Homo sapiens: one gene and its partners. The protein of the gene in region 3 purifies or fractionates together with the protein of the main gene of each other region. This does not show direct contact. Each region holds a gene or a part of one and is shown on either strand. Other genes may lie near its edges.

The links.
Region 1: the proteins of CA6 (region 3) and OLFM2 purify together in Homo sapiens (affinity purification with mass spectrometry; one large-scale study listed by BioGRID and IntAct). This does not show direct contact.
Region 2: the proteins of CA6 (region 3) and GAS6 purify together in Homo sapiens (affinity purification with mass spectrometry; one large-scale study listed by BioGRID and IntAct). This does not show direct contact.
Region 4: the proteins of CA6 (region 3) and IDUA purify together in Homo sapiens (affinity purification with mass spectrometry; one large-scale study listed by BioGRID and IntAct). This does not show direct contact.
Region 5: the proteins of CA6 (region 3) and SLC27A1 purify together in Homo sapiens (affinity purification with mass spectrometry; one large-scale study listed by BioGRID and IntAct). This does not show direct contact.
Region 6: the proteins of CA6 (region 3) and QSOX1 purify together in Homo sapiens (affinity purification with mass spectrometry; one large-scale study listed by BioGRID and IntAct). This does not show direct contact.
Region 7: the proteins of CA6 (region 3) and EDEM3 purify together in Homo sapiens (affinity purification with mass spectrometry; one large-scale study listed by BioGRID and IntAct). This does not show direct contact.

The regions. Positions count from the first base shown.
Region 1 is NC_000019.10:9,926,516-9,930,015, reverse strand, and holds part of OLFM2 (noelin-2 isoform 2 precursor), read left to right. Parts: intron 1-3,500. UniProt on the Homo sapiens protein: Involved in transforming growth factor beta (TGF-beta)-induced smooth muscle differentiation.
Region 2 is NC_000013.11:113,820,049-113,823,062, reverse strand, and holds the end of GAS6 (growth arrest-specific protein 6 precursor), read left to right. Parts: intron 1-876; coding exon 877-1,105; intron 1,106-2,044; coding exon 2,045-2,199; 3' UTR 2,200-2,514; downstream 2,515-3,014. UniProt on the Homo sapiens protein: Ligand for tyrosine-protein kinase receptors AXL, TYRO3 and MER whose signaling is implicated in cell growth and survival, cell adhesion and cell migration.
Region 3 is NC_000001.11:8,966,368-8,969,867, forward strand, and holds part of CA6 (carbonic anhydrase 6 isoform 1 precursor), read left to right. Parts: intron 1-1,291; coding exon 1,292-1,449; intron 1,450-3,500. UniProt on the Homo sapiens protein: Reversible hydration of carbon dioxide. Its role in saliva is unknown.
Region 4 is NC_000004.12:993,544-997,043, reverse strand, and holds part of IDUA (alpha-L-iduronidase isoform a precursor), read right to left. Parts: intron 1-3,500.
Region 5 is NC_000019.10:17,469,107-17,473,323, forward strand, and holds the start of SLC27A1 (long-chain fatty acid transport protein 1), read left to right. Parts: upstream 1-1,417; 5' UTR 1,418-1,434; coding exon 1,435-1,601; intron 1,602-4,217. UniProt on the Homo sapiens protein: Mediates the import of long-chain fatty acids (LCFA) into the cell by facilitating their transport at the plasma membrane.
Region 6 is NC_000001.11:180,189,369-180,192,868, forward strand, and holds part of QSOX1 (sulfhydryl oxidase 1 isoform a precursor), read left to right. Parts: intron 1-183; coding exon 184-306; intron 307-1,064; coding exon 1,065-1,212; intron 1,213-3,500. UniProt on the Homo sapiens protein: Catalyzes the oxidation of sulfhydryl groups in peptide and protein thiols to disulfides with the reduction of oxygen to hydrogen peroxide. Plays a role in disulfide bond formation in a variety of extracellular proteins.
Region 7 is NC_000001.11:184,702,859-184,706,358, reverse strand, and holds part of EDEM3 (ER degradation-enhancing alpha-mannosidase-like protein 3 isoform 2 precursor), read left to right. Parts: intron 1-3,362; coding exon 3,363-3,500. UniProt on the Homo sapiens protein: Involved in endoplasmic reticulum-associated degradation (ERAD). Accelerates the glycoprotein ERAD by proteasomes, by catalyzing mannose trimming from Man8GlcNAc2 to Man7GlcNAc2 in the N-glycans.

The DNA of each region.
Region 1 (3,500 bases), on a different chromosome or scaffold from region 3:
CCAGGCTGGAGGTCAGTGGCGCGATCTCGGCTCACCGCAACCTCTGCCTCCTGGGTTCAAGTGATTCTCCTGCCTCAACCTCCCGAGTAGCTGGGATTACGGGCATGCACCACCACATCCAGCTAATTTTGTATTTTTAGTAGAGACGAGGGTTCTCCATGTTGGTCAGGTTGGTCTCGAACTCCTGACCTCAGGTGATCTGCCTGCCTCAGCCTCCCAAAATGCTGGGATTACAGGCGTGAGCCACCACGCCTGGCCTGGTATGTGTGGGTTTCTGATGAGCCCAGTGGCTGGTGTGGGCAATGACTTTGTAGCCCCAGGATTCAGTGTTAGTGCCTGAGAGACAGTAATGTGCTGTTTTCATTTGTTCCTACATGCATGTATTCATTTATTTTATTTTATTTTATTTTATTTTATTTTGAGACGGGGTCTCACTCTGTCGCCCAGGCTGGCGTGAAGTGGTGCAATCTCGGCTCACTGCAACCTCCACCTCCCGAGTTCAAGCTCTTCTCCCGCCTCAGCCTCCCAAGTAGCTGGGACTACAGGCACACACCACCACACCCACCTAATGTTTACATTTTTAGTAGAGACAGGGTTTCTCTATATTGTTGTTCAGGCTGGTCTCAAACTCCTGACCTCAGGTGATCCACCCGCCTCAGCCTCCCAAAGTGCTGGGATTACAGGTGTGAGCCACCGCGCCCGGCCCATGTATTCATTTAGAGAGCATTCATTGAGAGCCTTCTGTATCTCAAGCGTTGTACTATGCAACAAGCACTGGGTGGTAGTTTGTGCTTTCAAGGGGTGGAGTAGATTTAACTTCTGGAGGAGTTGAGTCTGGCTGTGTTGGGAAAAAACTTGTCATGACAGGAACATTTTATTCCCATATCTAGGGAACTCTTGTCTGAGAACATTGACATGTCCTCCCTGCCAAGGTGGAAGCCCATTCTATCTCTTTTTTTCTTTTTGAGATGGGGTCTTGCCATGGTGCCCAGGCAGGCCTCGAACTCCTGGGCTTAAGCAATTCTCCTGCCTCAGCCTCCCAAGTAGTTGGGATTACAGGTGCACACCACCTCAGTGTGTCTTGCAACTTCATCCATCCAGAGTGCAGCCACAAACCAAGAAGTCACCAGGAAAGAGCAGAGAGTAGGGAGAGTAGATTCCATGAAGACTGTATACAAAAGCTTATTCTCTTTCTCTCTTTTTTTTTTTTTTAGACAGAGTCTCACTCTGTCGCCCAGTCTGGAGTGCAGTGGCACGATCTCATCTCACTGCAACCTCTGCCTCCTGGGTTCAAGCAATTCTCATGCCTCAGCCACCCAAGTAGCTGGGACTACAGGCGTGCACCACCATGCCTGGCTAGTTTTTGTATTTTTAATAGAGACGGGGTTTTGCCATGTTGCCCAGGCTGGTCTTGAACTCCTGGCCTCAAGTGATCCACCCACCTTGGCCTCCCTCAGTGCTGGGATTACAGGCATGAGCCACTGCATCCAGCCTGGAAAAGGTTGTTCTTGTTGCTCCTGGGGACCCAGTAGACTCTCGGTCCCAGTTTACTCTTACTTTACACATAGTTCCAACAATCCTGGGCAGCTAGTAACTAGCCTTGCTTAATAGATGAGAAGACAGGTGTCATTGCACAAGAAGAAAGAAACAAAAAGGCAAAGCCAGTTCAGCCATCAAATGAAATGGCAAATAGCTTCTCACTTTTTAGGCTCTAAGAGAGTCCTGGTGAATCCCAGGAAGAATACATGATGAGCACATGGTGAGCCGGGTTCTTTTTAAATTTTATTTTGTTTTTTTTTTTTTAAGACGCAGGGTCTTGCTCTGTTGACCAGGCTAGAGTGGAGTGGTGTGACCACAGCCCACTGTAGCCTCAACCTCCTTGGCCCAAGTGATCCTCCTACCTTAGCCTCTCAAATAGTTAGGACTACAGGTGTGTACCACTACATCCAGCTAATTTTTCTCTTTCTTTTTCTTTTTTTTGGTAGAGATGGGGGTCTCACTATGTTGCCCAGGCTGGTCTTGAACTCTTGGCCTTAAGTGATCCTCTTGCCTCAGCCTCCCAAGGTGCTGGGATTACAGGCATGAGCCACAGGGCCCAGCTAATTTTTGTATTTTTAGTAGAGACAGGGTTTCACAATATTGTTCAGGCTGGTCTCGAACTCCTGACCTCAAGTGATCCGCCTCAGCCTCCCAAGGTGCTGGGATTACAGGCATGAGTCACTGCACCCGGCCCACATTGTTTCTGTTCCTAATTTCTCTAGTAATTTCTATGAGAAAGACACTGATAGAGGCACTCACTCACTCAGGAGGGACGTGACACAGTCCGCTCTGAATGGCTGTCAGTTGCCAAATTTGGGAGACAGATGCAGCCGACACATGGTACAAAGTGCCAGATGTCAAGAGTCAAGTGGGCTTCCTGGGGGAGGTGGCATTTGAGATGGGCCTTGAAGGATGAGCGAGTGAAGACTGGAGGGTGGACACAGAAGAAAGTCATTGGTCATGCTGACAAGACCTGGTGGGTTTACCCTTATTTTACATGATTCTAACCATGTTTAAAAGAGGGGAAGTTTCTGGAAATGGGAACTAGGGTAAGTGTGTGGTTGATGCCTATGGTGGGTGCAGATAGGAGAAGGGAAGTGAGCTTGAAAAGGTTGTGATCTGACTGTAAAGGCTTCGAAAGCTGGGTTAAGGATTTTAGAATTTATTTATTCATTTATTTATTTATATTTTTTTCGAGACAGAGCCTCGCTCTGTCGCCCAGGCTGGAGTGCAGTGGTGCGATCTCAGCTCACTGCAACCCTCCCCTCCCAGGTTCAAGCAATTCTCCTACCTCAGCCTCCCAAGGAACTGGGTTAACAGGCGCGTGCTACCACGCCTGGCTAATTTTTGTATTTTTAGTAGAGACAGGATTTCACCATGTTGGCCAGGCTGGTCTCAAACTCCTGACCTCGTGATCTGCCTGCCTCGGCCTCCTAAAGTGCTGGGATTACAGGCGTCAGCCACCGTGCTGGACCTTATTTATTTATTTTTAGAGATAGAGTCTTGCTCTGTTGCCCAGGCTGGAGTGCAGTGACGCGATCACAGCTCACTGCAGCCTCAAACTCCTGTGCTCAGGCAATCCTCCCACCTCAGCCACCTGAGTCACTGGGACCACAGGCGTGTGCCACCATGCCCACATAATTTTTTTTGTTTATTTTTTGTAGTGACAGGGTCTCACTATATTGTCCAGGCCGGTCTTGAACTCCTGGGCTCATAAGATCTTCCTGCCTCAGCCTCCCAAACTGCTGGGATTACAGGCGTGAGCCACTGCACTTGGCCTAGAATTTAGTGAGCTGGTAATAGTGACTCATAGAAGAGGTTGTGCATGTTTAAATGGAAGACTTTAAAAATTTTTAATTGTGGTAAAATACACATAATATAAAATTTATCACTTTAGTCATTTATTTATTTATTTATTTATTTTTGAGATGGAGTCTCGCTCTCTGTCCCAGGCTGGAGTG
Region 2 (3,014 bases), on a different chromosome or scaffold from region 3:
GTTTAAGTCAGATGATTTCAGCAACAAACTCAGTTTTCCAATTTCCCTGGAAAAGTCGGATCTGTGACCTTGGCCGGTCCCCCAACAGCGTCTTTCCGTGGGGGACACCGGGTGGAGCTGAGTGCAGCTGCCCCTTGGACAAGGTCCCCCCACCCCCGGTCCTCACAATAAGTCAGCTGTCCTGGGCTGGGGGACTCATGCTGTTTTCCCCACAGAACAATCAAGAGGTGACAGAAACAGCTTTTATTCTCTCGCTCGTGTGCTAAGGAGGGAGACATGGGTCAAACCAGAGAGGCTCACGTTCTCCAAGTCTGCCCACCCCGGGGCCACAGAGCCCTCCCGCTTGCTGGGATACGACAGACAGGCTTGGTTCATGCAAATGCTCGTTACCAGGGCCAGACCCAATCTCAGCATCTGGAATAAACAGCTGCTGTTATGTAGCAACAGCCGACCCCTGGGCTGCTGGGCTGTGGTGCCAGCGTGAGTGCCCACCGGGCTGGGAGGCCGCCACCGCAGGGCTGGGTCCTGGGTCCCCATCAGGGCCACCCCAGTTCCTGGTCAAGTGCAGCCTCGGTCTTGTGTGTGCCTGGTGCCTGGGGCTGGGGTTGACCCTCTCACACCCAACCTGGGGGCCACACTTGTTCCCCCACAGCCTCCCAGGCTGGCCCCTGGCTTTACGTGCAGAGAAGCTGAGCCCCAGGTGGGGTGGGGGTGTCATCCACAGTCAGCGAGCATCCAGACCCAGGGCTGCAGGGAACCCTGGACGGAGACAGGCGTGCGGCGTAGGGGTGGCCAGCAGCTGTGAGGACCAGCTTGGACCTAACAGCTCACGTAGGGGTGGCCGGCAGGCCCTGACCACACCTCGGTCTCCTGCAGCTGGTGGTCCTGGCCGTGGAGCATACGGCCTTGGCCCTAATGGAGATCAAGGTCTGCGACGGCCAAGAGCACGTGGTCACCGTCTCGCTGAGGGACGGTGAGGCCACCCTGGAGGTGGACGGCACCAGGGGCCAGAGCGAGGTGAGCGCCGCGCAGCTGCAGGAGAGGCTGGCCGTGCTCGAGAGGCACCTGCGGAGCCCCGTGCTCACCTTTGCTGGCGGCCTGCCAGGTAGGTGCTCCCTGCTCCGCTCAACCCGGGTGAAGAGCTCCAGGGAGGCCCAGCTTGGTCACCCCAGATCTAACCTGGACAGGCTGGGGTTTCTGGTAGTGAATGCGGAAGAGGACTTGTGTTTTAAGAGGAAGGAGAAGTCCAGGTGGGTCGTTAGTGGCTATTATGGTGTCTCGGTGCTGGTCAGGTCATTGGCTGAGACTGAGAAACACGTACGGGGGCCGGCATTGGCCTGAGTCAGGCCCCACGAACCTGCATCTTCAGGGAGCATTCGTCCACACCCATCAGACCAGCCCCGGGGGAGAGGGCTGGGCAGACCTCGGGCCAGGCTGCAGTTGGGACCCGCGGCTGTCACCGCAGCTGTTAGCAGCGAACAGAGTGACCGCCAGCCCCTCCCATGTCCAGCAGGGCGTCCTGCCGTGTCCCATGGGCTACACAGCACAGAGGCTGGGACCGGGGATGTCCTTGCCATGAGCTGGGAGGGTCAGCGGAAAGGCACGTGGGAGCCGGCAAGTCCTCGGCTGCCCGCAGGTTTTCACTTGCGGCAAACGGCAGGATTTCTCTCTTGGCTGCCAGACACAGACTCCACTTAGTTTTAATAAACAGAGCTTTGAAGAGGATGAGAGCGAGCCAGGAGGCCTGCAGCCTGAATGACTCACTGGGCACAGAAGAAGATCACGTTTAACCGATGGGACTGTCTGTGCTCCCAGCGGGGAAGGGAGGGCTGGCGTCTGCAGAGCCCAGGCTGGCAGATGCCTCCTGCTTGTCTGCCGGGTCTGCGGCCAAACGAACGGGGACCGAGAAGTTAGAGAAGAAAGGGAAACCCTGCCCTTTCGGAGGGAACCCGGGGCTGGCCACAAGCGCTGCCGGGGGTGGGGGGGCCAGGCGGGGCCGGCCACGTGGTGAGCTAAGATATGTTGTTCTCTCCCTGCGGCCCAGATGTGCCGGTGACTTCAGCGCCAGTCACCGCGTTCTACCGCGGCTGCATGACACTGGAGGTCAACCGGAGGCTGCTGGACCTGGACGAGGCGGCGTACAAGCACAGCGACATCACGGCCCACTCCTGCCCCCCCGTGGAGCCCGCCGCAGCCTAGGCCCCCACGGGACGCGGCAGGCTTCTCAGTCTCTGTCCGAGACAGCCGGGAGGAGCCTGGGGGCTCCTCACCACGTGGGGCCATGCTGAGAGCTGGGCTTTCCTCTGTGACCATCCCGGCCTGTAACATATCTGTAAATAGTGAGATGGACTTGGGGCCTCTGACGCCGCGCACTCAGCCGTGGGCCCGGGCGCGGGGAGGCCGGCGCAGCGCAGAGCGGGCTCGAAGAAAATAATTCTCTATTATTTTTATTACCAAGCGCTTCTTTCTGACTCTAAAATATGGAAAATAAAATATTTACAGAAAGCTTTGTAACACCGCGTGGCCGTCATCTGCTCCCCGCGGGGTTCTGCACACGTAGCAGCGTTTGGGATGAGCGGGGCTGCCAGGGCTCCAGGCCGCACCCTCAGCCGCTCCAAAGATCCCTCCCTCTTTTCTGCTCCCAGCCTGGTTGGGCAGCCACGGTCTGCTCCCCAGGAGCCTCTGACTCCTCTGGTAGTGGCGGCAGGGGCTGGAGCCTCAGTTTACTTGTTCTGTAAATGCGGAGAACGCCCTGCTCGGCCCCCACCACAGGCAGCCAGTCATTGCTGAGTGAGGAGGGCTTGGCACACAAATGCAGGCTGCTGGGGCAGCGGCCTCTGAGCCAACCTGGGAGGGACCCCGAGCTGGGACCGAGGGCCGGAAGACACCGAGGCAGCGCCTGCACCCCTGTGCCATTCCCGTCCCCACCCTCCTGCACAGATCCACTTGCTTCCGGGCCTCAAGTGTGTTCTGTTGAGAAAGGGAAACTGCTTTCTCTGTGTCGGTCTGGGGTA
Region 3 (3,500 bases):
CCAAAGTGCTGGGATTACAGGTGTGAGCCACCATACCTGGCCGTATGTTTATTTTTTGAGGAACTATTATACCATTTTCCGTGGTGGCTGCATCATGATTCTGGAATTCTTGACTTTCACTTAAATATATTAGAGTTACAAAAATAAATCTCTACCACAGAGCCCTTTTGGAGGTTATATCTTGAAATCTTCCAATAATAATCAAACTTAGAACTCTTTTGCCTACTCATGGGCTTATGCACTCTGAGACATTGTGGCCTTGGTTGAACAGGCCTATCTACGTATGTATCAAAACTATGTTCTCTGCCTTTAAGAAGCGCAGAAGTGCTCAGGGAAAGTGAAGCAAAATCCAACTCAATCCTGTGTTGCCTTGAGAGTCTTGTGCTGAGCTCAGGGGCTCAGTGTTGTTGACATGAATGAAACAAGGACCTCTCTAGAGCAGGAGCAGGTGTGGCTGCTGCAGGAGTTTTGCAGGCCTGGTGGAAGTGGCCCCACCCTACGCCCCACCTGTGGCTGGGCTTGGTTTCCAGCGGTTGTGGCAGGAAGAGCTCAGGACCAAATGCCTGTACCTGGACCCTGGCTTGGTTCTGATTCTGCATTTATTATTTAAAAAAATAATAAAAAAAACAACTTATTGTAGAGACGGGGCCTCCCTGTGTTGCCCAGGCTGGTCTTGAACTCTTGGCCCCAAGCAATCCTCCCGCCTTGGCCTCCCAGAGTGTTGAGATTACAAGCGTGAGCCACTGCGCCTGGCCTGATTCTGCATTTACAACTGTTGTCTACCCACTTCTCAATGAGCCCAAACCAAGGCATTTTGGTCTTTCTTCAAGGGCACTTACCCAGAAGTCTCCAGGGGCCATATTTATTTCTTTCATTGATCATAAAATGTGTCCTCTGCCTAGCCATGATAATGGTGACCGCAGCAGTTACACTTAGGAGTACTTCCCTATGTAGTGGTTCAATGCCAGCTGCTTTCCAGACGTTATTCCTTCTTACCCTCACAACAATCCTGCTGATTATTCCCTTTCTACAGATGAGAAAATGGCCGCAGGGTGAGCACCCGGCCAAGAGCACTCAGCCAGGAGCAGGTGTCTGAGTGCGTCTATCCCCAAAGTCTCTCCTCTCAATCCCTTCCAGGAAGAAGTAAACTGGGAAATTGTTTCTTAATCATCAGCTTCTATGTTCTGCTGAACTCAAGAGATTGGAACCTGGCGAGGCCTGGGCCTGAGCTGTCCTCCCGAGGGGCAGCGCTGGTCCCTGACATTCTGTTACCTTCTGTCTTCTTGGTCAGGACAAAGAACAACCCTGACTGGCCTTGACGTTCAGGACATGCTGCCCAGGAACCTCCAGCACTACTACACCTACCATGGCTCACTCACCACGCCTCCCTGCACTGAGAACGTCCACTGGTTTGTGCTGGCAGATTTTGTCAAGCTCTCCAGGACACAGGTAATGTATGGTATCACTTTGCCGAAGTCTTCCCATTCGATTGCCTGGTTAACAAGGGTTCTCCCCAGCATCTCAACGAACGTCAACAACTAAGGGGTCCTACAGTATTTTCTGTGTGCAGGGCTACTGTGCCTCGTCTAGCCAACCTTTTTTTTTTTTTTTTTTTTGTGAGACAGAGTCTCGCTCTGTCACCTGGGCTGGAGTGCAGTGGCACGATCTCAGCTCACTGCAACCTCCGCCTCCCAGGTTCAAGCAATTCTCCTGCCTCAGCCTCCCGAGTAGCTGGGACTCCAGGAGTGTGCCACCACGCCCGGCTAGTTTTTATTTTTAGTAGGGACAGGGTTTTATTATGTTGCCCAGGCAGGTCTCAAACTCCCAGGTTCAAGCAGTCTGCCTGTCTCAGCCTCCCAAAGTGCTGGGATTACAGGTGTGAGCCACTGCACCCGGCCATCTCCTTTTCTTAAACTTTTCATTTCCTTAGAAAAAGGTGGAAAAGACCCCTGCTCAAGGACACTCACACTCCAAAATGTTGCCAGTCAGGCTAGAAGTGCCCCCAGACACCTGACAAAAGCAAATGGTAAATTATCTCTGGGAAAATGACCTTAAATCCAGACCTAGAAGAATTTTCACAAATAAAGTTACTTGAAATTAGCTCAATTAAGAAAAAAAAATACAAAACATATGAGAAAAAAAGACATTATAGATGAGAACCAGCAGAATCAGACCTACAAAGACTTCAGTTAGTGGAATTATCAGACAATTAATATGACATAAGAATGTTTAACATGTATAAAGAAATAAAAGGTTTAAATATGAGAAAAGAGCAAAAAAGTATAAAAATGGACATCCAGACTTGGGACAAAAACTCAAATAGAATTTCTAGAAATGGAAAAATAGTATCAAAAATTAATAATCCAGGCCAGTTGTGGTGTCTCATGCCTGTAATCCCAGCACTTTGGGAGGCCAAAGTGGGTGGATCACCTGAGGTCAGGAGTTTGAGATCAGCCTGGCCAACATGGTGGAACCCCGTCTCTACTAAAAGTACAAAAAATTAGCCAGTCGTGGTGGTGGGGCGCTTGTAATCCCAGCTACCCCAGAGGCTGAGGTGGAAGAATCACTTGAACCTGGGACGTGGAGGTTGCAGTGAGCCAAGATTGCACTACTGCACTCCAGCCTGGGCAACAGAGCAAAACCCTGTCTCAAAAAAAAAAAAAGTTTGCTGGGCACGGTGGCTCAAGCCTGTAATCCCAGCACTTTGGGACGCCAAAGCGGGTGGATCACGAGGTCAGGGGTTCGAGACCAGCCTGGCCAACATGGTGAAACCCTGTCTCTACTAAAGATACAAAAAATTAGCCGGGCATAGTGGTGTGAACCTATAATCCCAGCCACTCAGGAGGCTGAGGCAGGAGAATCGCTTGAACCCAGGAGGCGGATGTTGCAGTGAGCTGAGATCATGCCATTGCACTCCAGCCTGGGCAACAGGGCAAGACTCCATCTCAAAAAAACAAAAACAAAAACCCAATGAATGGGTTTAACGCATGTTAGATACAGTTTGAGAGAGAATTAGTAAATTGGAGACAGCCAATAACATTATCTAGAATGCAGCACAGAGAAAAGGAGATGGAACTATGAAAAGAAGTGAAGAGACATTGTGTACTGGAAAGGTCTAGTAAATGTCTAATCAAAATCCTAGAAGGAGAAGAGAGGCAGAGTAGGGAAGAGGCATGATTTGACAAAATATTGGCTGACAATTTTCAGGAAGAGATACCAAGTCATATATTCAAGAATGCCAATTAGTTTCTCTCTCTGTCTCTCTCTCTCTCTGGGTGTGTAGATATGTGTGTGTGTGTATACACAACATCCTGCAGTAAACGCATCACATTGAAATCATCAAAGACAAAGAAACTATTTAAAAATTAGCCAGAAAGAAAAGACAGATTATCATGAAAAGAGTATTATTAGACAGAGAGTTGATTTAACAGCCACAGTGAAAGTCAGAAGGGAGTGGAAACATAATTTCAAAGTGCCGAGGGAAAAAAAATAGCCAATAT
Region 4 (3,500 bases), on a different chromosome or scaffold from region 3:
TGATTTAAAGACAAAACTAAGGAAGTAAGCGTGTGACACAAGACTGGCCAGGGGTTCAGGCGGGAGGGGGGTTCAGGAGGGAGGCGGATTCAGGCAGGTCCCAGTTGCTGGGGCCCCCACGCCCCCTGTCCTGCGTGGGCCAAGCGGGGAAGGAAGGAGGTGTTGGCAGCCCTGCGCGTGCACAGGCTCGGGGTAGAATGGGCTACCCACTCTCTCTGGCCAGCAAGGCCCCTGGACCCCCTGGGCACTCAGCCTCTGGGCCTGGCCACAGGACAGCACCAGCCACTGCCTCAATGCTCAGAGAAACTGAGGCAGAGACACGTGGGAGGGGGCAGGTCAGGCCCCAAGGATCCTGCAGTGATGACCTCACCTACTTTAGACACCCAGCCTAGGTGGGGACTAAAAGGGCATAAGGCCCAATGCCTGCAGAAGACCTGAGGCCAGGCCCCTGCAGTGCGGCTGAGGCTGTTCCTGAACTACGCTCACCTGCCTAAAACCTCACCACAGGTCCCCATAAGCCAGCCTCTGGAAACCTCCACCACCTTTCCTGAGGGGGGAAGGGCCACCTCCCACTCCAGGTTTTTCTGTGGCCCCAGGTGGCACTGCCCACCCCACCCTGCATGCAGGCGTCTGCACCAGGTGCCCCACCCCTGCTGTAGCACCCAGGTCCTCCCTGCCTCCTTTAGGGAGACCTTGAGGGAACAACCCCAGCCCCCTGGGTCTCCCCAGTTCTCCAACAACCCTGCTGGTGGCTGCACCCAGAGGGGCCCTTATCTGTCCCAGGGAGGGACCTGAGGCCCTGCGTGACTGCCTTACCCCACCCACTGGCCAACCGCTTCTTACAGCACAGCTCCCAACTGCTGAGCAAACAGCTGCTTCCCAGGGACCACTGGGGCCCAGGTTGGGCTGGGGTGGAAGCAAGGGCTCAGACTCTGGAGGACAGGGCAGGGGCTTCGAGGAGAAATCAGACTTGGAGAGGGCATCCCAGGTGGAGGCTATGGGGGTATGAGACCCTGGAGCCTGTTCAGCTCTGCCCGAATCTCACACTCAGGGGTACGAGACCCCAGAGCGTTCAGCCCTGCCCGCATCTCACACTCTGGGGTACGAGACCCTGGAGCATTCAGCCCTGTCCACATCTCACACTTAGGATGTCTCCTACTCTCTGGCCATCCCAACTACATTCCACTCCCATTTCACCTCCAAATGGGGGCACTGCAGCCCAGTCTTCCCTGGGCTCACCCAGGGCTGTGGGGAACTAGCAGCGCTTGGCAGACGGCTTCCACAAGGAGGTACCTTTGGTGGGGTGAGTGTCCAGGGTCTCCTCCCTCCGGGGCTGTGCCCCATCAATGTCAGTGTCCTCGTCTTGGGGAAATGGAGCCCCGGCACATCAGCTGGTTCTGCGAGACCCTCGGCTTCAATCCCACATGGACAGGAGAAGTAGAGCCTGTGGCTTCTGTTCCCCGGACAGAGTCAGGCTGCCCAAGGTGCCAGGGCCGGGTTGGCCTTCCAGCCCCACCCGAGGGACCCACCGCAGCCTCCTGGCCTCCCTTGGGATGGGAGAGCACTGAGGGCTGCAGCCCCTCGTTACACTCACCCTCCGGCCACAGGTGCCCCGTGCAGGCTCCCACCCAGTACTCACTGTCAAAGTCGGGGGGACCTGAGGCTCCCAAGGAATTTTTTTTTTTTTTTTGAGACAGAACTGGCCGGGCACGGTGGCTCACGCCTGTAATCCCAGCACTTTGGGAGGCCGAGGCGGGTGGATCACAAGGTCAGGAGTTCAAGACTAGCCTGACCAACATAGTGAAACCCTGTCTCTACTAAAAATACAAAAATTAGCCGGGCGTGGTGGCACACGCCTGTAGTCCCAACTACTCAGGCGGCTGAGGCAGGAGAATCGCTTGAACCCGGGAGGCAGAGGCTGCAGTGAGCCGAGATTGTGCCACTGCACTCCAGCCTGGGCAACAGAGCGAGACTCCATCTCAAAAAAAAAAAAAAAAGACTTGTAGGCTGGAGTGAAGCGCTACAAACATACCTCACTGCAGCCTGGACCTCCAGGGCTCAAGCAATCCTCCTACCTTAGCTTCCCAAAGTGCTGGGCCAATGACAGCGTTTGTTTTTGAGACGGGCTCTTGCTCTGTGGCCTAGGATAGGGTGCAGTGGCCTAATCATACCTCATGGCAGCCTCAAACTCCTGGGCTCAAGCCATGCTCCCACCTGAGCCGCTTGAGTAGCTGGGATACAGGCACACACCACCACACCCAGCTAATTTTTTACTTTTAATTTTTTAAAGGTTGGGGGGCAGGGGGCGGCCGGGTGCAGTGGCTCAAGCCTGTAATCCCAGCACTTTGGGAGGCCGAGGTGGGTGGATCACGAGGTCAGGAGATCAAGACCATCCTGGCTAACATGGTGAAACCCCGTCTCTACTAAAAATACAAAAAATTAGCCGGGCGTGGTGGCGGGTGCCTGTAGTCCCAGCTACTCGGGAGGCTGAGGCAGGAGAATCACTTGAACCCGGGAGACAGAGCTTGCAGTGAGCCGAGATCATGCCACTGTACTCCAGCCTGGGCAACAGAGCGAAACTCCGTCTCAAAAAAAAAAAAATTAGCCGGGCGCGGTGGCGGGCGCCTGTAGTCCCAGCTACTCAGGAGGCTGAGGCAGGAGAATGGCGTGAACCCAGGAGGCAGAGCTTCCAGTGAGCCGAGATCACACCACTGCATTCCGGCCTGGGTGACAGAGCAAGACTCCGCCTCAAAAAAAAAAAAAGAAAAGGTGGGGGGCGTCTCACTATGTTGACCAGGCTGGTCTTGAACTGCTGGCCTTAAGCGATCCTCCTGTCTAGGCCTCCCAAAGTGTTGGAATTACAGGAGTGAACCATCGTGCCTGGCTAATAATTCCTTTTAAAAAGCAGCTTACCCTTATTTTCACGTGTGGGCCTAATTTAGTTCACTTAAAAAAATCATTTATCTTCACCCCAGCCCTATGAGGCAGGCACTGCCGGTCCTGGTCTGTGGTAGAGGGGAGGGCAGAGGAGCCGTGAGGGTGACCAGGCGCTGTGGGTCGGTGCTGGGTCCAGTCAGACCAGGACTCCTGGCCAGTCACGGCACCTTGACCCCGGCAGTCCTCGCCCTGGGCGGTGAGCACCACACACAGGGCTTACGCGAGCACACACGCATATGCACGCACCGGCAGCCTTGGGCTGAGCCGGCTGTCAGCCTCTGCCCTGCTCCAGCTTGGACCAGGCTGGCTCCTTGCAGGACCAGGAGGGTGTCCGGCGACTGGACACGGAGACCAAGCCTCCCTCAGCCCCGCCTGGGTTTGAAGGCTGCTGCACTCGACCCCAGACCCCAGAGCTGAAGGTTTACCTGTGCTCAGCCCCTGAGCCCCCGCCTCCCGCTGGTCCCTAAGCCCCCCCGGCAGGGCCGCAGAGCCACAGCTGCAGCGGCTCCTGGGAGGCTGGGAGCTCCTCAGAGGCCCACACAGCTCTAACTCCTACAAGCCCC
Region 5 (4,217 bases), on a different chromosome or scaffold from region 3:
GGTGCTTCTAGGAAGGATGGGGACCTGGCGTGTGGATTTTGTCCTCCCTGGGATCCTGGGGTGTGACGGTGAGACTTAACCGACAAGGCTTCGGGACATGGATTAAGAATTAGCTGTGTCCTTGAATCACACGTGTTAAGACCGCGGCGGTGTTTACAGTTAGAGACTTCTGAGGCCCCAATGGTGTGAGTTGAGCACTCCCCCGGGCCCTGGAACGTGTTTTTAAGACCGAAAGAGGCTTTGGGGCTTGGATTTAGGACAAGCTGGAGCAAGAATACAGCCCGCGCGGGCCGTGGGTGTGGACTGGGATATTTTTGGTCCCCCGGGGTAGAGATCCTGCACGCCAACTAGGGCTCGGGTCCTGATATCTTGCGAGCCACGCCCCAAGGCTGCAGGACACGTGTGTTTCCTAAAAGGAGAGGGGGTGGGGCAAGGCTTGGTTGTCATGGAGACAGCGGACGACCCTGGCGGGCCGTTCTAGCACCCATGTCTCTTTGGCCGTCGCCTCTCCGGTCCGGTTGCCTCTCTATGGTCGTGGCTTCTGGAAGACGGCCGGCCTCGGCTCTGCGGGCTGAGGGGCTTCGAAGTAGACAGGAGGGAAGAGGGGCGGGGCCTAGGTCCTAGGGGGGCCGGAGTGAAACCCAGGAGGTGGCGACCGAGCCAAAGCCTGAGGGCGGGGCCCGTGGCCAGGATAGAACCTGAGCCTGGGAACTTGGGCTAGGCCCGGAACTGGGGTGGGGCTTGAACGGATTGGGGAGGGCTCTAGTTTCGGGAGGGTGGGGCGTGTGCTTATTGCGGGGGGGTGGGGAGGCATATGTCTAACCTAGGGGGTGGGGCCTGGCTGAGAGGGGCGGGACTCGGGGAGAGGGCTTGTACCTGTGGGCTGGGCTAGAAGCATAACCTAAGGGCGGGGCCCAGTGAGTGGTGAAAAGGCCACGGGGTAGAGGCAGGACCAGGAGGAAAGGGGACAGGACGTGAAGGGTAATTCGGGGATCGAGGATAGAGGCTAGATGAAGGCATGTGGCGAGGCCTGACAGTGACCGACAAGGTGGACATGCTGGCTCTGGGGGCGGGGACTGTTGTAAGATTGGCAGGGAAGGATGGGCTCAAAAATATGGAATAGAGCGGACCCAGGGTCCGGGGGCGGAGCCTGGCCAGGACCTGGCCAATCCCAGGCCTGGGGCCCTGGTCTGGTTCCTAGTTAGCGGGCGGGTGTAAAAGCCTGGAAAGGGGCGATGCCTGGCCTGAGGAGTTGACCAATCCCAGGCCTGGGGGCGGAGTCTGACTCGGAGCGCGTTCCCGGACTCGCGGGGGGCGCAGAGCCGAGGCCTGGGGGCGCGGCTCGCTGTAGAGGCGGGGGCGGTCGTGGGGCGGAGCGGGTCGTGGGGCGGGGCTGGAGCGGCCCGCGGCCTCAGCTCTCTCTGCTTCCCCAGGATGCGGGCTCCGGGTGCGGGCGCGGCCTCGGTGGTCTCGCTGGCGCTGTTGTGGCTGCTGGGGCTGCCGTGGACCTGGAGCGCGGCAGCGGCGCTCGGCGTGTACGTGGGCAGCGGCGGCTGGCGCTTCCTGCGCATCGTCTGCAAGACCGCGAGGCGAGACCTCTTGTGAGTGTTGCCGGGATCCGTCCAGGGCTGGGGGCGGGGCTGAGGGCTCTGGGGGCGCACGGTGCAGGGCTGGGTTGCGGGGACGGCTTGGAGGGTCCGGAGAGCTGAGGGTGCTTTGTAGGTTGGGGGCGGGGCTGGGCCGAGGGCTGGGCGGGGGCGGGGCCTGAGAGGGTGACCAGTTGGGGGTCTCTGAGGGGGCTACAGGGGACACTTTAAGGATTTCTCGAGGAAGATGAGTAGCCTCTAAGGTGCTTCGGGCGTTGCAGGCTGCTTAGGAGATGATCTCAGGGGATTTGGGGGGCAATTTGGGGGTCTTTGGGCAACTGGTGGAAATTCCAGGGAGCTGGGGCTGACTGGAAATCCGTGGCGGTGTGGGGGTCTTTTTGGAGCCGTGATAACTGTGAGAGACTTCAGGGGGCTCTCCAGTAGGTCACCGGGGCTCACAGGGACGACCCAATAGATAGTCTCTGGGGGGTTGCCAAGACACTTTGGGTCTATCTAGGGCTTTCTCTGAGGGATGAGCGAGCTGCTCTATAAAGGACTTCCCGGGTTTCTGAAGGTGTGAGTTTCCTCGGGATCGTTTACAGCTGGGGCACTGTTTGAGATTTTGGGGTCTGTGTGGGACTTTGGGTTTGGGAGTTGTTCGGAGTGTGTCGGGAGGCTGCTGTGTATTCCAGGACTTGTTTGGGGGGTCTCTTCTGGAGACTGGGACACTGGATTCATGCTAGGGGGGCAGATTCTGGTGTCCTGTGCAAGGATCCTTGGAGGGTTTTTGCGGTGTCTCTGAGGGACTTGCTCAAACGAGCCGTTGGGGGTCCTTCTGGGATGAAACAGGCATTGCTGGGGGCTTCTATCAGAGCAGACCTCAGGAACAGCACCACGTGGGAGCAGGTGAGCGCCGGCTAGCGGGGCAGGGCTCAACACCTTCACAGCTCCTTGTAAGATGGAGTAGCAAGAGGGACTGAACCCATTGTAAGGAGGGCACAGAGGGTGTGGAGATGGGAAAGATCCCACCGTAAGTTGACTGGTTCTGAACTTTCTAAAACTCACCCCTTCTGCATGCCATGGCCCCCTGCCCCCGGCTCCTTGGTTGTTCTGATGTGGAAATCTGACTGTGCCCTCTGCTCAGACACCTTCCATGGCCAGCCCATCCTTGGCAGAAGGAAGACTCAGCCCCTAGCTGGGCACTCAAGGTCCTACCATCTGTTCCCTGCCCACCTGCCACTCCCCCCATCCATATGTTCACCTGGTCTTCAGAAAGACTTGCAGTGTCAAGCTCAAGCTGCCCAGAACATACTGGACCCCTTTTAGCCAGGGCAGGCTCTCCCTCTGGGAACCTTTGCTGAATTTTCCTGCTCAGCACCCTCCCATAGCTCCTTGTTGCCCTTAGAATTGACGCCATACTGGCCGGGAGCGGTGGCTCACGCCTGTAATCCCAGCACTTTGGGAGGCCGAGGCAGGCAGATCACGAGGTCAGGAGATCAAAACCATCCTGGCTAACACGGTGAAACCCCGTTTCTAATAAAAATACAAAAAAATTAGCCAGGCGTGGTGGTGGACGCCTGTAGTCCCAGCTACTCGGGAGGCTGAGGCAGGAGAATGGTGTGAACCCCGGAGGCGGAGCTTGCAGTGAGCGGAGATCATGCCACTGCAGTCCAGCTTGGGCGACAGAGTGAGACTCCGTCTCAAAAAAAAAAAAAAAAATAGAATTAGAATTGAGGCCATACTCCTGAGCATTGCGCACGAGGTCCCTGACCATGTCCCAGCCTCCGCTTACTTCCCTTTTGTCGCCTAGCTGCACTTACCTTTTGTCTATTGCTCATTTGTTTGTTTGTTTGAGGCAGAGTCTCACTCCGTCGCCCAGGCTGGAGTGCAGTGGTGCGATCTTGGCTCACTGCAACCTCTGCCTCCCAGGTTCAAGTGATTCTCCTGCGTCAGCCTCCCAAGTAGCTGGGACTACAGGCACGTGCCACCATGCCCAGCTAATTTTTGTAATTTTAGTAGAGATGGGGTTTCACCGTATTAACCAGGCTGGTCTCAAACTCCTGACATCACGTAGTCCGCCTGCCTTGGCCTCCTAAAGTGCTGGGATTACAGGCATGAGCCACCATGCCTGGCTCCCTTTTTTTTGAGACAGGGTGTCTTCTCTGTTGCCCAGGGTGGACCAGCCTCCATCTCCTGGGCTCAAGCAATCCTCCCACCTCAGCCTCCTGACTAGCTGGGACTACAAACGCCTGCCTCCGCTCCTGGATAGTTAATAGAATGTTTTTTATAGAGATGAGGTCTCGCTATATTGCCCAGTCTGGTCTGGAACTCCTGGCTTTAAGCGATCCTCCTACCTCAGCCTCCCAAGTGGCTGGGATGACAGGTGCACACCACCACACCTGGCTAATTTTTTTATTTTTTGTAGAGACGTGGTTCTGCCACGTTGCCCAGGCTAGTCTCGAACTCCTGGCCTCCAGCGATCACCCAATTTCAGCCTCCCAAAGTGCTGGGATTACCGCGCCCAGCGTGAACTGCTTTGAACCATATTGTCTACTTGACTTTCAGACAGCCAGATGGTGCAGTTGGAGTTGCAAACTCATGTGAGGTTATGAGTCATCGATCGAGATTTCA
Region 6 (3,500 bases), about 170 Mb from region 3:
AGTCATATTTGTGTCTTAGTTAGAATGTTTTCCTGGTGGTTTTGGAACTTTGCACAACCTCCTCCCCACTGCCCCCCGCCCCCCGCCCCCCGCCTTCTTCTGCATAGCTTCCTACCATCTGCAGGACGGGGAACTTGGGGAATTGCTTTTCACTCTCCAGCTTCCGCTTGTTCCTCCCCACAGTATTTCCCTGGCCGGCCCTTAGTCCAGAACTTCCTGCACTCCGTGAATGAATGGCTCAAGAGGCAGAAGAGAAATAAAATTCCCTACAGTTTCTTTAAAACTGCCCTGGACGACAGGAAAGAGGTGAGTCTGGGAAGCAAATAAAGATCTCTCCATCCTCCGTATTTATGAGAGTGCAAGGGGTTAACCCTGTCATTTCTGACCTTCTTCGCCAGTTTGCACCAGGGAGTCAGTGATCTTCGTTGGGTCCTAACAATAATCAATAAATGACTATTGATTGAGCTCTCTATGCGCACATCTCATTTAATCCTCATAATGTTAGTGGAAGGTAGATATTCTCCCCATTTAGCAGATGAAGAAACAGTACTTTGAAAAGGTTAAGCAACTTGTCTGGGTTCATGGAGCCAGTAAGTGTTTGGGCTGGGATGAAAACTTGGTGAGACCCCAGAGTTTTTAACAACTACCCTGTGCTGCCTCTTAGTTTGTGGTGCTGCTCAGCATGGCCTCCCTGGCCCTCTCCAGGGCACCTTCTGGGCTCCTGCTCATGCTGCTATTTGCAAAAGTGGGTCACTGCAGCCAGCAGAGGTGTAAAACCCTGTAGACTTGTAGGGTGTCAAATCTCGAAGGGACCTCAGAGATAACCCCCTTGTGTTACAGCTGGGGAAGTTGAGGCTGGAACGGGATGCAGCTTGATCTGGGTCACAGCTTTTTAGGTCTGCTGCTGCTTCAGTGGGTGGAACTGGTGAAAGGGAAATGCCACCTTCGAGGTGATAGACTGAGGGACCTCATTTGTCTTAGGGCTGTCTCCTAGAAGCTTCTGTCTCTGCCTCTCCCATCCTTTTCCTTCTCCATATGTGCACTCACACTCATGTGTCCCTCAGGGTGCCGTTCTTGCCAAGAAGGTGAACTGGATTGGCTGCCAGGGGAGTGAGCCGCATTTCCGGGGCTTTCCCTGCTCCCTGTGGGTCCTCTTCCACTTCTTGACTGTGCAGGCAGCTCGGCAAAATGTAGACCACTCACAGGAAGCAGGTACGTCCAGGACCCGTTCACCCCACTGTGCCTCCAACCCTGCTCTGTTCGGCCCTCCAAGGGGAGAGGGGGCAGGGAAGCTCCCTTGAATTGCCCCACTGGCTCCCAGCTGCCAGAAGATGGGGAGAGTCAGCCTTGGGGCTCTGGCTGGATTGCTCTATCTGCAGGTAGCCCCACACGGCCAGAATAGAACCAATCCCAGGAGGGAGCAGACTTTAGGAATTCAACCAGTCCTGTTTTCGGCCCCGGGAGCTCTGGGGCTGAGGCTTCTCCCTGTCTTTCTCCGGGCTTATAGTTTGCTTTGCTTTCAGTCTTCATGAAAAAATTGTGATTCTATTTTTTTATACTCTTAACAAAGAAAAAAACGTGTATTTTACAGTTTACATAGCTGATACATAGCAGGTGCTTTGAGCAATTTTATTGCACTTCCCACTGAAAAACAATTTCCTGGGGGAAGTTGGGGAAACACGTTTCCCCTGCTGCCTCGGATTGTCCACAAACTGCACCACCATGTTCTCCGGCCACGCTGCCCCACACCTGCTTTTGAAGACTGAAAGGATGCGCATCCAATTCAGTCCACACTGATTGAGGAACCAGGTTTATACCAGGCTGCGGCTTGGCTTGGAGGATAGATACATGGGTGAAAAGGGCGACAGTGCCCGCTCTTGGTGGACCTCTAGTGTGAGGCAGGGGGACAGAGAGGCCTGCAGTGCATCAGGGCTAGGGCCGTGGTGGAGAGAAAGATGTGGGGTGAAGAGAGGGCAGGCTCGACGCCATTGGGAAGGGGCCCGAGGCCTTACGGGGTGAGTTGAGGGGTGATGGGTGAGTAGGGATTCCGCCAGGAGAGGAGCATCCCAGCAGAGGGAGCAGCCTGTGTGGAGCCCCGTGAATCAGAGGAACTGCCAGGCAGTGGTGTGGGAAGCCAGTGTGTATGGAGCATCTCCACCATGCCATGTGGCGCTGCAGGTGCCGGGGACACAGCAGCATATGAGACAGGTCCCTGCCCCCACAGGGCCAGTATCTGAGTGGCAGGAGACAGACACAGAGGGATGGCTTCAGCCATGATGACGAATGCTGAGGAAGACAAAGCAAAGCAGTGCCGGAGCGGGTGCTGTCTGGAGAGGGGTCTGGGAAAGGCTTCCCTGTGGAGGGCCCGGTGCTGGGACCCATGTGGAGAGGAGAAGGCAGTGTGGGACGTCTGGGAAGAGAGTCTCCCAGGCTGTGTTGGTGTCCTTGGGCTGCACTCACAAATGTCAGGCTGGGGCTCAGCCAGTAGACGTCTGTTGTCTGAGTTCTGGAGGCTGAAGTGCAAGGTGGAGGTGTCTGTGCTGGTTTCTTCGAGCCTCTCCTTGGCTGGGCGGTGGTCGTCTTCTCCTTGTGTCTCCGTGCAGTTGTCCCTCTCCCAATCCATGTCCAAATTTCCTCTTCCTGCAAGGACACCAGTCCTATTGGATTAGGGCCCACCCTAATGACCTTATTTTACCTTCATTACCTCTTTAAAGACCCTGTCTCCAAATACGGCCACATTCTGAGAGGCTGGGGATTAGGGCTTCAACATAGGAATTTGGGGGGACATAATTCAGCCCATAGCACAGGCTGGAGACCAGCAGGTGCAAAGGACAAGCCTGGTGTGTGGGCAGCACTGAAAGAAGGCTGCTGTGGCCGGAGGGAGGGAGGTGAGGCTGCAGAGACAGGCCGGGGGCGGAGGTGAGCGCTCATGGGCTCAGAGGCCTTGGCGAGGGCAGGGTTTGGAGGTTGGTGTTGGCATTTTGAGAAGCCACTGGAGAGGCTAACGGAAGTGACAGTTGGTTAACACTTTAGAAAGGTGGAGGATGGGCTACTGCAGGCAGGGGGAGGCAGGGCAGCTGAGGAGCAAGCTGCATGCTCGCCCAGCAGTGGTGGTTGGGCCTGGACTAGGGTTGTCAGTGTGCCCCTGGAGGAAGTGGTCAGATTTGGGGATATGTTAAAGGCAGAGCTGAGGGACTTACTGATAGATTGGAGGAAGGGTATGTGGGAAGCAGGACTCGGGTGGACTCCAGGGTTGTGGGGCCTGAGCCTCTGGTGGATGATGGTCCCATAAGCTGAGGAGTCAGGGGCTCGGGTTGGGATGGTGGAATCAATGGCCCGCTTTGTGTCAATAGACCTCCCAATGGAGGTGTGCACAGTTGAGTCTGGAGTTCCAGGGAGAGGTGGGGAATAGAGAGATTAGCTTTATAGTCATTAGTAGCATCAGAGCTCAAGCTGTGGGACTGGATGAGCTCCCTGGCAGGGAGGTAGAGAAGAGTGCT
Region 7 (3,500 bases), about 180 Mb from region 3:
GAAAAGGTGCCCATGAGATCCATAACCCCCGAAGGGCAAGAATTACACTGTGCCACGTCCAGTGGGGAGCCATTGAAAATTTCCATTACTCCACAAAGATGCAGGCTTTGGAGGCAGACACATGAGAGTACAGTTCCTGGCTCTACCACAAAATTGCAGTGTAACCTTGGCCTAGCTTCAGTTTTTTAATCTGTAGATTAAATAGTATAATTTTTTTTTATTTGATAGTAGAATATTTTTGAGCTCCAGTGGAAGTGATAATAAATATATTTTAGGTGATTGTAAGGTTTAAAGATATATAAAATTTCTTGGCATAATAGCAGACATAGGATAAGTGCTACTATAACAGGGTTTACAGTATTGCTAGCAGATCTTTATCCCCTTGGATCTTTTTCTACCGAAATGACAAGTTACCACCTTTAAATCATCTTACCTATATGTATCAACTAGTGGGTTTTGCTTTTTTATCTTTCATAGACAATCACTTATATCATGATAAACAGGCCATGACTATTAGGGGAAATATAAATTTTTCTGTTTTAAAGTAAATAGGAGTTTACATTCAGAAAGAACTGTAAGACCTGGGCTCACAATATGCTGATTGTGAGTTCTTTTGTACAGCTTCTCTCACAGGGAAATCCATTTTGGATTCCCCCCTCCCCTGCCGCCCAATAGTTAAGGTAAATAAAAAAAAATAGTTCAGGTAAAACAGAATATTAACACTTATTATGTTGATTTAATGGATGCATAAATTTTATTAATAAACATTAGGAGAAGTCCTGTTTAATGACTTAAATCAGCAGTTGGCAAACTACAAGACTATAGGCCAAATCCAGCTCATTGCCCATTTTTGTAAATAAAAGTTTTATTGGGACACAGTCATGCCAATTTGTTTGTGTATGGTCTATGACTGCTTTGAACTGCAGTGATGGAGTTGAGTACTTACAGGAGAGAACTACAAAGCCTGAAATATTTATTCATCATCTAGCCAGTTACAGAAGAGATTTGCCGACCCCTGACTTAAATCATGCTCTTTATCCTTGGGTATTTCCCACACTTAGATTAGTTTTATTGCAGAATTTATTATATTAACCATCACTATCATTTTGAACAGTTCTTACCAAGACTTCAAAATGAAAATGTAAAGTATAAAGTGTAGAATTTATGCATTAATGTTTAAAAATATTTCTTTGTGTAGTATTTTGGTTTTTTATATTTTTCAGTGAAGTCTAATTCTCATGATCTTCTATAGTATGCAATAATTGTCAATTTTTGTTTTGTTTGTTTTGAGATGGTGTCTTGCTCTGTCACCCAGGTTGGAATGCAGTGGCGTGATCTTGGCTCACTGCAACCTCCATCTCTCAGGTTCAAGCAATTCTCCCTGCCTCAGTCTCCCGAGTAGCTGGGATTACAGGTGCCTGCCACCACGCCTGGCTAATTTTTATATATATTTTTTTCTTTTTAGTAGAGATGGGGTTTCTCCATGTTGGCCAGGCTGGTCTTGAACGCCTGACCTCAGGTGTTCTGCCTGCCTTGGCCTCCCACAGTGCTGGGATTACAGTCATGAGCCACCAAGCCTGGCCCGTCAAATGTTTTTTTTGGTAGCTATTAGTTGGAAAATGGTATACTGGGTTCTGTGGATAAATAAATAAGAGATGATGATCCTTACTCTCAGAAATTTTTTTTTTTTTTTTTTTTTTTTTTTTTTTGAGACAGAGTCTTGCTTTGTCACCCAGGCTAGAGTGCAGTGGCATGATCTTGGCTCACTACAACCTCCACCTCTAGGTTTAAGTAGGTCTTATGCCTCAGCCTCCTGAGTAGCTGGGATTACAGGCACGTGCCACCAAGCCTGGCTAATTTTTGTATTTTTAGTAGAGAAGGGGTTTCGCTGTGTTGGCCAAGTTGGTCTCAAACTCATGGCCTCAAGTGGTCTGCCTTGGCCTCCAAAAGTGCTGGGATTACAGCCATGAGCCACCGCACCCAGCCAAAAATTTAATTTTTAATGAGAAACTTTCTTGTGTTGACTTCTTTCTCCTGAGTTTTTTGTTTCTGACAAAGCATTTTGTTTTTGTTTTAATTGTATATAAATGAATAAATTAGGAATTAGCTGTTTTTTGTTGCAAGGGTTAGAAATACGAATTATCTTAGAAATCATGTGGCTGCAGGAGATAATTACGTTGGTTTAAGAAGGGAGGTTTTTTCACTACACAGAAATGGATTATTTTTAGTGAATTAAACAGTACAAATACAACTAGGATTCACCAGGAGGTAGAAGTGGGAACTAAAAATCACCAGGATCCATGATAGTGAATGTTTTTCACTTTTCTCTCTGTATCTCTACCTCTGGGTCCTTCTGAACTTTTCTTCCCTGCTTCTCTTTGCAATTCTGCTTCATTTTCCAGCTTCTCACCAGCCTTCTCTCTCTTTGTTCCTCAGTTCCAAAATGGCCATTCTAGTTTGCAGCCTCAGCCCCTAAGTCTGTGTCATTCAACTGGACTATTACCCCCTGCTAACTGAAACAGTCTTTCTGTGTGCCAGTTCCAGGTCCCCCAGAGAGACTCAGGGTCAGGTAGCCATCTTTTGTCTAATCAATTATTACCAAGAGGATGGGTCATGCATTCTGCACTTAGCAGGTCCTATGAGAGTGAGCACCCTGAGACAGGACAGATAGTTTCTTCTGGGAGACTGGCATGCGATTTGGAGGTGGTCGTGATTGTCGTCTTCAGTAAAACAGCATGTTGCTGGTACTACTACTATTAATAGTTCTACTACTATTATTTAACCAATGCAAAATAGCAATACTGTTTAGTTTAGCTTATAGAGGAAGAAGCACTATAGTCATAACTATTCTTTGTGTGCATTATATAAAAAAGAAATGTCCATTTTTAGTTTGGTAAAACAATGTAATCATGCCAGTAGTGGAAATTTTCAACAATAAAATTCATTCATAGTTCTATCACTGTAATCCGAGTCATTGATTTTTTCCTTTCTAGGCTTTTCCATAAGCATATGAAATTTTTATAGTCATAATCATAGAATTCTGTATTCTACTTTTTAAATGTATTATTATTCTGTGTGTCCTATCAAGTAGGTCATTATAATTTACTTATAATGGTGTACAGTTGTTTACAATTATAAATAGTCTAGTAAAATTATTTGGGCATAGGGCTTTTCGCTACTTTTGAATTATTTCCTTTGGATACGTTTCTATGAGAATTAATGGGTCCAAAAATTATGTTGGTTTTTATGGTTCTTGATGCATAAAATTAATTCTGTCATTGTAAAAAATCAGTAACAATTAGTAGATAGATCTTTTTAATGGCTGGATATTTTGATGTTTGCTGTATTTATTTTCTGGCTAGATGACAATGAGGGGAGCAGCAGTGATACTGCCCCTCTGTTCCAGATGGCAGGTGATGGAAAGGATACAGATGACATCAAGATCCCCATGCTGTTCTTATTCAGCAAAGAAGGAAGTATCATACTGGATGCCATCCGGG